2 linked regions of the Homo sapiens genome follow. The protein of the gene in region 1 interacts with the protein of each later gene in a biochemical or structural test. Each region holds a gene or a part of one and is shown in the gene's direction. Other genes may lie near its edges.

Region 1 (8,182 bases):
AGCGGCCTGGAGCGCTGCGAAGGCGAGCAGGACAAGCGGCTGCACTGCTACGCCTCCTGGCGCAACAGCTCTGGCACCATCGAGCTCGTGAAGAAGGGCTGCTGGCTAGATGACTTCAACTGCTACGATAGGTACCCCAAGACTTGCCCTCCTTTCCTCTTGGACCCACCTGCGCTTATACTGCCCACTGGGCCATTTGGGTCTCAGGATGTCTGAGTGGGAGATAAAGGACCAAGAAGGGGCTCTTGAGATGGTAGCCATGGCCCCACGCCCTTCCACACCCTATTTGTCCTACCTTAGCCCTGAGGAGGGGTCTCAGTGTCAACCCCTGGCTGTTCTTCCTTGGCTTTGGGTCTCCTGTAGGGGAGGTGAGTTCACACCGTCCCCCTGGTGTTGCCCATGAGGTGCTCTGTCTGTGAGGAGGGGTTGGCAGGGCAGGCCTGGGGGAGTCTTGCATCCCCCAGGTGAGGGGTATATGGAAAATTCTGTGCCTCCAGGCAGGAGTGTGTGGCCACTGAGGAGAACCCCCAGGTGTACTTCTGCTGCTGTGAAGGCAACTTCTGCAACGAACGCTTCACTCATTTGCCAGAGGCTGGGGGCCCGGAAGGTAAGGGGGCAGTGTGGAAGTGGGGCCTTGAGTCAGCCGACCTGGGCTTCTTTGGCTTGGAGCGCTTGGCTCCTCAGTTGGGTGGGGTGTGGCTACAGGGCCCTGTAGTCTGGCTCTGGAAGTGTGAGGGTGGGCAGACTGTTTGACACAGGGCTCTGTGTGTCCCCCAGTCACGTACGAGCCACCCCCGACAGCCCCCACCCTGCTCACGGTGCTGGCCTACTCACTGCTGCCCATCGGGGGCCTTTCCCTCATCGTCCTGCTGGCCTTTTGGATGTACCGGCATCGCAAGCCCCCCTACGGTCATGTGGACATCCATGAGGTGAGACAGTGCTGGCTTGGGGCAGGGCAGGATAGAGGTGGGGAGGACAGGCCAGACCTTTTTAAGCCTTGCTCTCCCCCAGGACCCTGGGCCTCCACCACCATCCCCTCTGGTGGGCCTGAAGCCACTGCAGCTGCTGGAGATCAAGGCTCGGGGGCGCTTTGGCTGTGTCTGGAAGGCCCAGCTCATGAATGACTTTGTAGCTGTCAAGATCTTCCCACTCCAGGTGAGTGTTTGAGGGGCTCCATCCAGGTCCTCTGCCTCCACTGTAGCTTGAACTGGAGGCTCTCCTGACCTGGGGCAATCCAAACCCCAAATAATATTGTGGTATGAGAGAAAAGTGAGCCTTACTGGGCCTAGTTACTCATGTTACACTTGGCTGGTCTGTAGATTTCATGCAACTATGGAATTTTATCATAGGACTAGGGTAGGGCTTTGCAAAACCTTGATTTGCCCCGGTTACCAGGGTTTTGTTTTTGACATTGGGTTCTTTCCAGCGGCCCTGGACACCAGGTCTGGCTCTGCCTCATTTGTTGGGTGATACGGGGTCACTCACACCCCATGCATGGACCTTAGTGGCCCCATTTGTAAATCGAAGTGCTAGCCTTAAGTGATCTCAGGGATCACTGTTGGCCTCATGCTCTGGGGCCTAGCTTAATACAGGTCTTCTCCTGGTCCCCTTACAAATGCTGAAGCTGGGAGGCTGGGGGGTGGGGATTGGGCTGGGAGGCTTGAGGGTGGGGAATGGGGAATGGTTGTTCTGCTGTAGGGCAATGTGACTGCAGCAGGGCTAAGCCAGCCACTTGTCCCCCCAACCCCTCGCCCCCGGCCTCAGGACAAGCAGTCGTGGCAGAGTGAACGGGAGATCTTCAGCACACCTGGCATGAAGCACGAGAACCTGCTACAGTTCATTGCTGCCGAGAAGCGAGGCTCCAACCTCGAAGTAGAGCTGTGGCTCATCACGGCCTTCCATGACAAGGTGAGCCACACCCATCAGAATGGACTCTGAGAGGAGATGGAATGTCCCCTTGGTGGCTCTCCATAATATGATGACCCCTTCCCTGTGGAGGTGTCCACCATGAAGTACTCTGCCCCGGTAGCACTATCCACTATGGGGTTACTCCTGCCATAGGTGTGGACATTGGTTCCCCTATGATAGGAACCTCTCACCCTGGGATAAGTTTTTATGATAAGAGTAGTGACTCCATGATTCCCACCCCTAGCCCTCCCTGCCTCCTGGCCTCATCCATCTTCCATATCGATTGTAGTAGCCTTCCAGGAGAGCAGCCTAGCCATTGGCCCACTGAGACTTCTCTGCCAGGGCTGGGCTGGGTCCTGTCCTGTACCCAGAATCTGTGCTCAAGTTCTGTGCTGTCTTCTCTCAGGGCTCCCTCACGGATTACCTCAAGGGGAACATCATCACATGGAACGAACTGTGTCATGTAGCAGAGACGATGTCACGAGGCCTCTCATACCTGCATGAGGATGTGCCCTGGTGCCGTGGCGAGGGCCACAAGCCGTCTATTGCCCACAGGTACCTGGGTCAGCAGGTGCCTTTCCTGCACTTGACCTGGAGCTGTGGGAAGGGTTGGTGGGCGAGAGCAGTGTCTGGAGATGTCTCAACTTCCTAAACATACTTACCCTGCTTGCTGTGTGTCCGAGGCAGCTGGGCACAAAACCTGGCCTTCCCACTGTGTCCTGGGGATGGCATGGCCTCCCAAGCTGGTTTTTGGTGCCCTCTAATGGCCACATGAAGTGCTGACTCCATTACTTTGGTTGGAGAGTTGGCTCAGTAGTTCTCAAATTTTCTAGTTTAGGATCCCTTTATACTCTTAAAATGACTTTTGTGTAAGTGGATTATGACTATTGATATTTGCTGTATTTGAGCACACCCACACATCCCATTCGCTGTCAGAGTGAGGACATCACATCTCATGTAGCCTCGGGAAAACTCTATGCTCCTAAGAGAATGAGCCTTATAAAAGCAAATAAATGAAAATAATTTTGACTTTATAGATTCCCTTGGAACAGTCTTAGAGATCTTCTGGGGTCCTCGAACCACCCTTTAAGAAACTCTGGATGAGCTCATCACTGTCATGCTTACTAAATGGCAGGCAGTGCTCTAAACACTTGAGAAGTATCAATTCATTTGACCTTCATTACCGCCCATTGAGACAAGTACTGTATTTCTCAGCTCTGTCTTGCAGATGGAGGAACAGTAGTACAGAGAAGTTGAATGACTTAGCCAAGGTCTTGTAGCTAGTTGAGTCTGGTTCTGTGACTGTGAGGGAGGGGAATGAACCTCAAATTCCAGCGTTCAAAGCTGAAGGGTCCCTGATGGTAATAACAGTAATGACATAGAAGGTAGACTGTATGAAATTGCCGTTTTTATAGGTCAAAAGGTTGAATGTTGTCTCTGCTATATGGCTCAACTTAATAGGAATACCTAGTAAGTATGCCAGGTGTGGCCCTAAACATTTGCACTTACCACTCAGTCGAATCCTCACAAGGCTGAGACAGGCACTGGGGAAACTGAGTACCACAAGTAGCTTTGCTTAGTTAGAGGTGGAGCTGGGTGCATGCAATAGCACCCTTGCTCCAGCCGGCCTTCATGGTGAGCTTGAGACCCTAAGGGGTCTCTGCAGGATCCTAGGAAAGCTAATATTAAATTCCTATTCTCATTCACATTCCAAATGCTGTAAATTCTTCTCAGAAAACTTGCATCCCAGGCCAGTGTGCCTGTCCACAACCCCTCTGAGAATATATGGGCTGGCCTTTGATAGTGTGGGGACTGGGACAGGGTCTGCCCAGCCATTAGGGTAGGTGTTGCTTTGCCAACCCTGGGGGAAGCCTTCCATCTGAAGTGCACTGAGGGATTCTCACACCCATGTCGGCGCCTGCAGCTGCCTGCTTGTGCTGCTTCACCTCTGCACCCCAGGTAGGGTGGGATGGCCTGGTCTGGGGCCTGACTCTAGGGCACAGACTCTAGTATCTTGGGAACCAAGGTGGGAGTTGGATCATGATGTTAAGCTTTATCTCTGCCCACTTGTTTCCACAGGGACTTTAAAAGTAAGAATGTATTGCTGAAGAGCGACCTCACAGCCGTGCTGGCTGACTTTGGCTTGGCTGTTCGATTTGAGCCAGGGAAACCTCCAGGGGACACCCACGGACAGGTAACAGGCCTCACAGGGCAGGAAGAGAGGGACAGACCCAGGGTAGATACTTTGCCCTTTTTGTGCTCAGCTGGGGAGGTGCAGGGATGAGGGTGACTGCATGCGTTCAGAGCTGTCTGAGAACTTAGAGCAATGCTCTTGTTTGACCAGTGGAGAAACCAAGACCAGGAAGGCAGTGTAGTTTAGCTTCCGTAGGACAGTCAGCTGGGAAATGTAGAGATTCCCCACTGGGGTTTTGACCACTAGTCCTTGCAATCTTAGTCTTTCTCTCACTTTTTTAGTTTTAATTCCTAAGACAAAACAAAGAAATGTACTAAGGATCCAAACAAAGAACCTGGAAAAAGTAACTAAAAATTAAACTTAGGAAATCATTCCTAAAACAATCACTGTTATTATTTTTTAAGTGTTCTCCTTCCCTCTTTGTTTTTGGTCTTAATCTCAGTCAGATACATATCATCTGTAGTTCCTTGTATTAATTTGGTAACAATTCCATTTTAGATTACTATTATCTCCAGGATATAGTATTTAAAAATTATTAGCCAAGTATAATTGATGCTGTGACCTCTTGTAACTGTTGTGAATGTGGTGAATCGAGGTTTGCTATCATTGATAACCTGTCTGAATTGCTCTGTCTTGCCCGCCATCTGGTGCACAGAGGCTGTAACTCCCATGTCCCAGCTGTGTGTGTATGGCCAGTCACTGTAAATCCTGCCCTCCTCTGTCCTCACATAGGTAGGCACGAGACGGTACATGGCTCCTGAGGTGCTCGAGGGAGCCATCAACTTCCAGAGAGATGCCTTCCTGCGCATTGACATGTATGCCATGGGGTTGGTGCTGTGGGAGCTTGTGTCTCGCTGCAAGGCTGCAGACGGTAAGTAGGATGGCAGCCCTGGGCATCCTAGATTGAGTGATAGGGAGCAGTGGGACCTTAGAGTGATCCTGCCAGGCTCTCTCTTTCTCCTAGGACCCGTGGATGAGTACATGCTGCCCTTTGAGGAAGAGATTGGCCAGCACCCTTCGTTGGAGGAGCTGCAGGAGGTGGTGGTGCACAAGAAGATGAGGCCCACCATTAAAGATCACTGGTTGAAACACCCGGTAAGGGGCCTGGTTCAGGCAACTTTGCAGGGGGGTGGAGAAGGGAAAACCCTTCATGTGTAGCAGGTAAGCTGAAATCAAGGGGGAATGGGCAAATAGAAAGTCTGCGACGTTCCCTGGACTCTAGGGATGTGTTCCAGGGGTTATGGGGAGTGAGGTAGGATGATGTCCTTCTCCTGATCCCCACTTTGACTGAACTGCTACATTTTGGGCACTTGTATGGTTTGGGCTTCCAATAAGATTTTGTTTGAATATCAGCACTTCAAGGCAAGTAGTGGTGTCTATCCTAGTAGGGGCCTTGGTGTCTCCTTCTCCCTCCTGTGTATGTTGAGGTTCAATGAACCTTTCCTAGGGCTGTGGAGTGAGGCCAGTAAGCTCAGAAAGATGACTGCCATGAAGGCAGGCATGCTGATTCCTGAAGTTTTCCCCAGGCCTCTGCTGGTGGACCTGCTGCTGTGGTTGGGGCTGGTGGGCTCTGCCTGATCCTTGGGAATATCAAGTTTACTGTCCCCCAAAGCTTTTCCTCACTGAAGGGTCCTAACAAAGGTGTCTTTCCTGTCTGCCCTATGCTGCTTAGGGCCTGGCCCAGCTTTGTGTGACCATCGAGGAGTGCTGGGACCATGATGCAGAGGCTCGCTTGTCCGCGGGCTGTGTGGAGGAGCGGGTGTCCCTGATTCGGAGGTCGGTCAACGGCACTACCTCGGACTGTCTCGTTTCCCTGGTGACCTCTGTCACCAATGTGGACCTGCCCCCTAAAGAGTCAAGCATCTAAGCCCAGGACATGAGTGTCTGTCCAGACTCAGTGGATCTGAAGAAAAAAGGAAAAAAAGTTGTGTTTTGTTTTGGAAATCCCATAAAACCAACAAACACATAAAATGCAGCTGCTATTTTACCTTGACTTTTTATTATTATTATTATAATTATTATAATTATTATTATTAATATTATTTTTTGGATTGGATCAGTTTTTACCAGCATATTGCTCTACTGTATCACAAACAGCGGACACGTCAGCAGGCGTTGAGGTGCTGAGCTGTGGATGCAGAACCAGCGCCATGCTGAAGAGCCTCAGCCACCTCCTGTCCTTTGGGATTCGTTTTTCCCGCTTTCTCTTTGTTTGTCGTCTCAGAATCTGTGACACAAAGAAACCCATCTCCTGTCTTAGGAAACCTAATGCTGCAAACTCTACCTAGAGGAACCTTTGAAGACTGTTACATAAGAACATACCTTCCTCAGAAGAGGAGTTTCCTCTGCCCTCTGCCCTTCTCCCCTGCCTCCCTCCCTCCCCTCCTTTTATTTTGTTTTAGTGAGCTTAAGAAACAGCAGATGTGTCTTTCACGGATCTAACGGGTGTTGTCCTGATCGAGAAAAAAACTGGGATGAGAATGGTTTGGACTGGAGTTGGAAGGGGAGGACGGTACTGGGGGTAGGGTTTGGAACAGAGCTACACTGGACTCGGGCACATTCGGAGCAGCATCCTTTAGTATGGAGGCTACTTCTCAGGTAACCAGGAATTGAGGGGAAGGACCTTGTGGAGGCCGAGCATTAACAGCAAGAGCGGGGTTTGGAGAAAGTCTGAGATTGGGTGCAGCCCTGACTTACCTGCTGGCCCTGACCAGTTTCTTTTCACTAACTTGGCCTTGGGCATAGGATGAAACATTTTTTCTGCCCTAATTTTAAAACTAGGTGAGGGTAGAATCATCACAGGTTAGGAATACATTCTTCATAAGACACGATGCTGTAAATACCCTTAATGGACGAAAAGTTGAAATACTTTTGTTTCCTCTTGGAGCAGTTCAGGGAAATGCCCACAGGGGATTGTCCTGCACAGATAGGGCAAGAGGATTTCCTGGGTGGAGTCTGCCAAGGCCTGCCTCGCTGGGGACCCCAGAGTCCTGCACCTCTGGTTCCGCCCCAGGTGGTGACATTACTGTCCCCGTTCTGTGGCTCGTGGACAAGACTTTCTCCAGACCCCTTAAAGTGGTACATATTCTAAAAAACTGTTTTTCTATTATGCCATAACCTTGCTCTAGTCAGTGAATGTTCCTAATGCTGCTGTTTCAACATTTGAATTCTTTTTAATTTATGAAACATGCTAAATTTTTTTTTTCAAACAAAACACACACATCCACATATACACATGCTTCGCTATGTGGCTTCCAAGGTTTAAATTTTGAAAAGTAAAAGAATTAAAACTTCACGACCACAGATCACCTCAAACCAGAAATACCTCAGAATTTTCTACTTATGTAAGGTTTATTATATATTTTGTTAGTTGTGTTGTCTTGTAGTAAGTATATTTTAATGTAAGTTGGCTTTTGTGACAAGGAAGTTTAAAAGAAATAGAGAAAAAGAAAAAAGTTTGCATCTTCTAGGGAGTGCTACCATTTTTGTTTGATAACGCCCCCTTGTAAATAATTGTCATCAACTGTAGGTTGGCTGTCTGGGCCAAGTCTGGGCATTTATCAGTCTTGTTTGTGAAGGCTTTTCCTTCTGGTTTCTTTAGATCATTTTATTTAAAAACAGTGCATCTCTTCATCGTGAGGGTAGGCAAGGCGGGGGCCGTGGGGAGAGGTTGACCTGGGTGAGAACTGAAGAGGCCGCCTCCTCTTGGGTTGTTTGGAGCTTCACATGTAATTCACATGTAACATGTAACTTGATCGGTCAGTGTTCAGAATGACAAGTAACCCCGCTTAAACTTGGTAGAAGGATGGCCCTTAGACCTGAATGGGGTGATTTTACTTGGGATTTAACTTCTTCAGCAAATTAACAGCAACGTTGGAAGAGATCTGTGGCGCCTCTGTGAAGCACACCGTGACTCAGGCCAGTCTTTTAGTGCAGCGTGTCTGGGAGTGAAGGGTTTTGCCCTTGCTGGTCTTGGAGTCCACAGTGTGAGGGGCACTGCACATGCCTGGGCATCTACCTAGTGTGCTATGTTCAGTGTCTGGGGCTTACTGCCCCGGGGTCCTTTCCTCTGGGTGTTGG
Region 2 (7,830 bases), on another chromosome or scaffold:
TGAACAACTCAATCCTTTATTCATTTACTCTTTTGCATGAGTCTCTTGTCTCCTAACAACTTGGGTGTGGGCCAGCCCATCTCATTTTGTTGCTGGTCACCAAGATTCTGCTTTAGGTCAGAACAAAAAGCCAGCAGGAAAATGTATTGAGACCATACGTGAAAGTTGGTTGGAACAACGAGGTTGCCCAAGAGGAACATTGTATCTGTAGTCTCCAGTAATCAGAAAACATAAGATGCAAAAGGAAGCAGAATCACTTGAATTATTAGTATTTTGTAGAGCTGCAATTTTTTTTTTTTTTTGGTTTCCAAGGCCTCTTGGAGATGGATAGGGAGAAGGTTGAGTGAAACTTTACAATTATAATATGAAATCAGGGTATCTCAACTGCAGAACAATGAACACTGTAGGCCAGGTAATTTCTTGTTGTTGGGGGCTGTCCTGTGCATGGTAGGATATTCAGCAGCATCCCTGGGCCCTACCCACTAATGATCAGTAGAACCTCCCTCCCAGCTGTAACAACCAAAATGTCTTCAAACATGGCCAGATGTTCCCCGGGGAGCAAAATCGCCCCGGTTGAGAACCACTGCTGTAGAATGAAGAGTAATAGGTTACTTACTGGGTTTTCTTCCTCCTTCTCTTTTCCCTAATTGTTTTAGTTCTAGTATCTGGGTTCCCTTGGTTCAGAAAGCAGCATTTCCAAATAATCTAAAAACAGAGTGCTCTTACATAGCAGAAGGCCTTGTGGGATATTCTGGTGGTTCTGAAAGAAATGTGAAGCTTACGAGTCAAGTTTCAGATTAACCATTTCTGACCCTGTTGTTCTCAATGAATTTCAGGGGACTTTTTAATGCTTTCCTCTCTCTCTCTGTTTCGATCTATTCATTCATTGATTTAACTTAAAAGCAAAACAGCTTCCCAGTTCAATTTTGAACGTGAAACGCTGATTCTCCTTTGTCCCAAATCTTTCTACCTAACATTCAGCCCAAGCTATGTACAGGCTGCGGCTGTCCAGGAAACAGGCAGGGTTTGCCAATCCCATGTTCGATTTAAACCATTTGATGAGACCCTTCATCACAGACTCTCGCAGTCTCCCTGCAGCAAATAGTACTCTGGATCCTGCCCACGTTCTCTGGATTCTGAGCTGCCTCTGGAGGGAGTCACCCCTCACCAACAAGGCCAGGTTTTCCGGCCTGAGCCCCAGAATAACACATCAGCTGCTGGGAACACCTCGAGTCCTTTTGATTTCTCTCCATAGTCACGTTTTATGTTCGGTTTCCCAGACGGGATGAACCAGAAATCATGCTTTTTTGGAAACAGATTTTTTCATAGGAAGGAAAGAAAACACCGTGACTCGTCAGCACTCTTGTCCGTGCCTCTGAACCCCCAGCCTTGTGTCATTTCAGCTGAATCAGAGAACAACATCCCAGTCACCTGCTTGGGGCGTTCGCGTCTCCTGGCTTGTATTTTTGACTGAATAACAGCAATCCGTGAGCAGCAGCTAAAATAATAGAGCCCTGAAAAATGCCCCAACCCCCACTCCCTTTTCTGGTCCTGTCTCCTTGCTCCAGGAGTAGTGAGGAAAGAGACCAGTTAATAGCGTGGATGAAAGCTGAAGGACAGACGGTTTGAGAAGAAAAGTGAACATTCTTGCTTCCTCATCTATGCCAACTTTGAACAGGGACAGCTGCTGCCACAGGTAAACACCACTATAGGGTTGGCCGTGGCCCTAAGCTAGGTGTCACCGTAAGCCACGGGCCAGCACACGAACGCTGGCCTCTCCCCCATTCGCACAATTGAGCTCTTATCCTTAAACGAACTTTGTTTTTTGACCAGCTCACTAATTGTGATTGAAAACACCAGCTCCCCAGCAATGCACACGCATTGGAGTTAGCAGCAGCAAGACAGGCCCTAATTGCTCCATTTACATAAAAGTAGAAACATACAACTTCTAAATATAAATCTCTGGCACATCGTTCCTTTTGCAATTACAGTAAAATAAGGTACCACAGTTTCCCTCCCGGCTCCTTCTCGCAGCAAGCTGCTCCACCGGGTTCGCTAGTGGCTGCTCCTCGAGGCGAGAACAGAGCCATGCAAATGCTCCAGCGTGGAGTTGGGTTTGTGAAGTCGCCAGTAAATCAGGCCGCCTCCACTAGGTGAATAACGCGGTGGCAGCGGGCCACTTTGCTAGTGCAGTCGCTGGAGGACCGCGCTCCGCACTCAGAAGGGGGCAGTTGGCTGGTGCGCGAGCGCTCCCGGCTCGCCTCTGTCCGCGGGGAGCCAGCCGGCCCCTCCGCAGGTCCCGCTCCCTGACATTTGCTGTGGTTTCACTCCCTGGCACTGAGGGCTGGGTTCAGAGATTCCCAGCTGCACTCACTGAACAGTGATTTTTTTCCCCTCCCTGAATTCTTTAGCTGCCAAAAGGGGGGAAAAAATCAAGAGCTGCTCTTAAAAGAAGTTGCCCTTGCTGGTGCTCAGGGTAAAAATAGAGGCTGCCGCTTAGACCGGCTTGGCCCTGGCTCCAGGCATCCTGCGAGCTGGGCTCGAGCAGCGGCCGCGTTCCGGCGTGATCCCTGGAAGCTGCCAGCAGGTGCTGCTCAAGGTACAGTAGCAGGGCCGAGAAGCCGGGACCCGAAGGGCCTGGGGTGCGGGGAAGCTCCGGGGGAGGGGGAAGTGAAAGAGAAACCAAACCAAGGAAGGAGAAGGAGATTCTGGTCAGGACTGGGCTGACCAGCTTGTGCCCCGGGCCCTTGAGTTCCGCAGGGAAAAGCTGATTCCCAGTCTAGAATATTCCACAGAAGCTATTTTAACCTGCCTGCTTCCTCCACCACCCCCACCTTGATTTGCACCGAGGGAGGAGGCATTGCCACTGTGGTGCAGGTGGTTGCAGAGGGGTTGCAGCACGGCTGGTAGGCTGGCCTGGCAGGTGGGCACTCGGTGGCATCAGATGGCCAGCGGAGTTTCAGAGTCACACTTGTGTTGTGGCTCCTCTGGTCAGAGAGCTGCAGATTCCTGTGACACCCATGTTTAAGAACAGCCACCAGGCTTCTCAGAAATAGTATCACTTATTATTATCTGACAGCTGCACTTGACCCCCACAGGTTCATATCATGGATCCCATTTTATAGATGGGAACACTGAGGCCTGAGTTTACACGGTGAGTGAGCAGAGGAACTGGGATCTGATCTGGGTTTGTTTTGTGCCCCCCACCCCCACCCCACGTCACCTACACACACACACACACACACACACACACACACACACACACACACACTACTTTGTGTGGAGGCGGAGGGGATGTTTTCAGGACACTAGGGTTCATGTGTGGGTCAGGGGTGAGTTTAGATGCCCTGAAGGTCATTGACTCCACTAATTCTCAGCAAAAAGGGTGGAGAAGTTTCTTTCTTATAAAGGGTTTGAGTTCACCCAGTGCTAAGCTGAGGGGCAGGTTTGGAGTTCACCATCATTAATCCTATTTCTGTCTTCGCCACTCAGATTCACTCTCTTCCTCTACAACCTAATGATTTTTTTCCTACTTCATTTCTGCATATGCAGTTCTTAGAATACTCCTTCCCCCCACCCCCATGCAGCTCAGCACCCACACTTTCTCTGTATCTAGCCAAGAGAGACCCTTTTACACAGAAAACTTCTGGTGTCCTAATGGAACCTGCTTAAGCCACACATCAGGAGGCCAGAGCCTCTATATTTTGCTTGTGGGCACAGTGAAAAGTTTATTTTATGCATGTTAAATCCTGCATACAAAACAACATATCTGGTCATATGGCTCTCATTAGCTCCCAATTTTGCACATTTTATCCAACTTGTCATGAGAACTGGGCTTATGCTTCAACTGTAGTCCTTCAAACAACCCTTCACCGTTCTTGTCAGAGGACCCCTTCCTCCTGTGTTATTTACCAGACTTGCCAACACCCCTCCCCCACAAAAAAAGCCTGACCAGCTTTACCCCTATTTCAAGGAGTGTTCACTTCTTTTCATTAATCTGCTGTTATATTTGTAACAATTTAGAAATTATAGGAGTTGAAGTTCTGGTAAAAAAGAATGATGCATGAGGGTTTTTGTTGTTGTTGTTGTTGTGTGTGTGTGTGTGTGTGTGTGTGTTTGGTTAGTTAGAATGAGATTCTAAAGACCTGGGAAGGATACTTATGAAGTTCATTTAAAGAGAATTACTATTTCCAAAGTTCTTGATTTATGAAGCAGGCATTCAATTTCAAGATGTAAAATAATAGTGTAAGTTGGTTGGGGTCGGGGGAGACCATCATCATATGATTATACAGATTTTCCCAATTTTTTTCCTCAATGAAATAGCTTATTTTAAAAATATAAAATTAGAATCCCTATAAAGAACACTACCAATTTTCTTTCCTGAAAGAAACAATAAAATACTTTGTAAATAGAAGCAACTTCATGAAGTAACAGATGTTTTATGTAAAGACATAAAACTGAACCTGAATATAACGAGACGTGTGTGCGAGTAGTAAAAGTTGAAAGTTGGACACACTCATTGAGACATATCTATTTGATTCCAATGTTTTTCTAAAAGGTAGAGTAATCCTAGCCAGAGGTTTCACTGGCTCAGTGCATCACCCAGTAGTGTCTCAGAAGCCAGGAAGGGCTTTCCATTAGATAATGAATTATGAAATGTCTCACACTGGAAAAACCAGTCATCCGCTGATGTCATGCTGATTCCAACCAATCCCAAACAAAGCCCCAGCCCTCCTCTGTTTCAGTGGTACCAATGTGTGGTGTACAAATAAGTAGTACAGTATAAAACTTCACAGTGCCAATACCATGAAGAGGAGCTCAGACAGCTCTTACCACATGATACAAGAGCCGGCTGGTGGAAGAGTGGGGACCAGAAAGGTAATGCTTTTTAACTCTTACTTCTGAGCTCTTTACACATTCAAAGATAGGAAAGCTAGGAGGAATTTTACAACTAATTGGCATTTCCAATGTGCATTGTGATGTGTACCTTTTTATATTATTCAGGCAGGTTAATACAGCTTTTAATAGTCCTAGAGCATGCAAATAGATTATATGTTTATACAAGCCACTCAGCACATATATACAAGTACATATGCCAAAGAGAAAGCTATTTTTAAGAGTTACATTCGCAAACAGTAAATTCAGGGAACACACACATACTCAGATGCAGAGAGAATCCAAATATTGATAAGTTGCACTTATCTAAATGCTGCTATTAGGACTCCTGAGTTGTTTAGAGCCATTAAACTTTTGGTTGTATTTCAGACTTTCTTGTAAAACTTAATTGAACTGCAAAACATTTTGGGTACTGTATATGTGACTCCAAATAGGTGGATGATGTTAAGTATTATAGCACAAAGATTTTTTATAAAACCATTGTAACACAAATGTCCCCTGCCTCCCCCATTCTCTTTCACCATCCCCGTAAAAAATATGAGGCTTTTTAGGCAATGTTGACAAAGTTTTAACAATAATGGTGGAGTAATTGATGTTTCTGGAGCTGAAACCCCAAAGGTGTTAGGTTACTTGTAACAGAAAAAGTCTTACAAATAGTTGTTTTGGAAAAGGGGACAGTATATATAATTCAGAAAGCATTGTTAACCTGTGCAAACTGTAATTATAACTTAGTGTCACAATTTTCTTGCCCTCTTCCCCTTGCACTCAGATCTTATCTTGTAGTAATGATATTTATTAACTCTTTCCACCTAAACTGCATTGCTTGACTGTAATGCTATGAACACACTAGGTGTCAGATATAAGCTGAGTGTATCTTCAGAAACCAAGAGGGCTTATGTGTGGGAAAGAAACCGAGAGGGAAGGAACGCTTTAACAGATGGACCCCTTAAAGATTCTTCTGCAAGATAAAAGCAATAAGACAGAAAATGAAAAAGAGGGGAGGGGGAAGAATTTTTTTTAAGCCTTAGAAAGGCATTGTTAAAAAATTCACATTTTTCTTTTTCTGTGCACACTAAAATCCATGATGATTTCATCTGCACTGTTCCTTTGAGGGAAAAAGAAGCAGTCAAGGAGGCTGTCTATGAATGCACTGGTCGGGACAGGCTTGGGGCAAGCTGAAAAAACTACCACATGACAGAGAAAAATAATTTGCCAATATATTTTAGAGAGTCTTTTCCCATAGGACCAGTTATTCAAGTCATACGAGTGCACTCTTTTTATAAAAGGATGTGGGAAAGGCCAAGAGAATTTTGCATTTTATCTGTGAAGTCCGGCGAGTGGTGGTAGGCTGTAATGTGTGAGAGTGAGTGGGTCCCCGGCAGAAGGGGGCAGCTGAACGCGACGGGGAGAAAGCGCTTCTGGAACTTGGGCTTGTGACAGGCTGCCTGCCCTCTGGTCCTTCAGTGCCCTGCTGCATTTCACAGTTGGGAAGAGTGGAGTGTATTATATGACCCCAAACAAAAGTTCCATTGCGCTCTCCTCAGATTGCCTGCCAGTGTTGATGACCTGAACATTTAAATATGAATGAATTGGGGGAAAGGACCATCTCCCCTGGATCCCATCAGGCCAGAACAATCCTCTGTTACCCCTGAGTCCCTCTTCCCTGACCTCCACTACCTGTCCACTGGACCTCCCTGCACCCTCTGCCCCACCACGTGGCCAGGTGGGCGTTCTACCACCTAGGGCTGTGGCTTGGCTGGGTGGAGGGGCGGTGGGAACACTTTTTCAATCAATTCATCCCTATTGATTGAGACACTGTGTTTGTTTGGGGTTTCTTTTCTCCCCTCCAAAAAAGGAAGAAGGTGAAACCAGGAGACTGGGCAGAGAAAGAAAAAAAAATAGTGAACAAAATTAGGATAATTTATTTTAGAAGAGAAAGTAGAACCCCCGAAAATGGTGATATTTGAAGAGAGGTGTCTGTGAGGAAGCTAAGAGCAGAAGGAGAGCAGCCTGTCAGAAAACGGGCTGTCCCTCCCTCCCTAATCACAGCCCTACTCACAGCAAACTCCCTCCCTCTCCATTCACTCACTTACTTAGGGCCAATCCTTTCTCTCTCTCTCTCTCTCTCTCTCTCTCTCTCTCTCTTCCTTTCCCTCTCTCCCTCTCCCCCTCCCTTCCCTCCCTCTCTCCCTCTCTCTCCCCCTTCTTTCCCTCTCTCTTCTCTCCCCCTCTCTCCTCTCTCTCTGTCTCTGTCTCCCTCCCATCCTCTCTCTCTGTCTCTGTCTGTCTCCCCGCCACCCTGTCTCTCCCTCCCTCCCTGTCTCCCTCCCTCCCTCCCTCCTTCCTTCTCTCTTACTCGGAGACAGTCAGAACTCTCCTCCCTGACAGCCACAAACCTACAGCACTGACTGCATTCAGAGAGGAACCTGCAAACAAAACTTCACAGAAAACTTTTTGTTCTTGTTCCAGAGAATTTGCTGAAGAGGAGAAGGAAAAAAAAAACACCAAAAAAAAAAATAAAAAAATCCACACACACAAAAAAACCTGCGCGTGAGGGGGGAGGAAAAGCAGGGCCTTTTAAAAAGGCAATCACAACAACTTTTGCTGCCAGGATGCCCTTGCTTTGGCTGAGAGGATTTCTGTTGGCAAGTTGCTGGATTATAGTGAGGAGTTCCCCCACCCCAGGATCCGAGGGGCACAGCGCGGCCCCCGACTGTCCGTCCTGTGCGCTGGCCGCCCTCCCAAAGGATGTACCCAACTCTCAGCCAGAGATGGTGGAGGCCGTCAAGAAGCACATTTTAAACATGCTGCACTTGAAGAAGAGACCCGATGTCACCCAGCCGGTACCCAAGGCGGCGCTTCTGAACGCGATCAGAAAGCTTCATGTGGGCAAAGTCGGGGAGAACGGGTATGTGGAGATAGAGGATGACATTG

Evidence for each region.
Region 2: the proteins of ACVR2B (region 1) and INHBA form a complex in vitro, tested with the Homo sapiens proteins (one study listed by BioGRID).

The regions. Positions count from the first base shown.
Region 1 is NC_000003.12:38,477,364-38,485,545, forward strand, and holds part of ACVR2B (activin receptor type-2B precursor), read left to right. Parts: coding exon 1-131; intron 132-497; coding exon 498-607; intron 608-777; coding exon 778-929; intron 930-1,011; coding exon 1,012-1,155; intron 1,156-1,764; coding exon 1,765-1,908; intron 1,909-2,314; coding exon 2,315-2,463; intron 2,464-3,987; coding exon 3,988-4,102; intron 4,103-4,834; coding exon 4,835-4,973; intron 4,974-5,066; coding exon 5,067-5,197; intron 5,198-5,774; coding exon 5,775-5,969; 3' UTR 5,970-8,182. UniProt on the Homo sapiens protein: Transmembrane serine/threonine kinase activin type-2 receptor forming an activin receptor complex with activin type-1 serine/threonine kinase receptors (ACVR1, ACVR1B or ACVR1c).
Region 2 is NC_000007.14:41,700,053-41,707,882, reverse strand, and holds the start of INHBA (inhibin beta A chain preproprotein), read left to right. Parts: upstream 1-4,792; 5' UTR 4,793-4,878; intron 4,879-7,365; 5' UTR 7,366-7,508; coding exon 7,509-7,830. UniProt on the Homo sapiens protein: Inhibins/activins are involved in regulating a number of diverse functions such as hypothalamic and pituitary hormone secretion, gonadal hormone secretion, germ cell development and maturation, erythroid differentiation, insulin secretion, nerve cell survival, embryonic axial development or bone growth, depending on their subunit composition.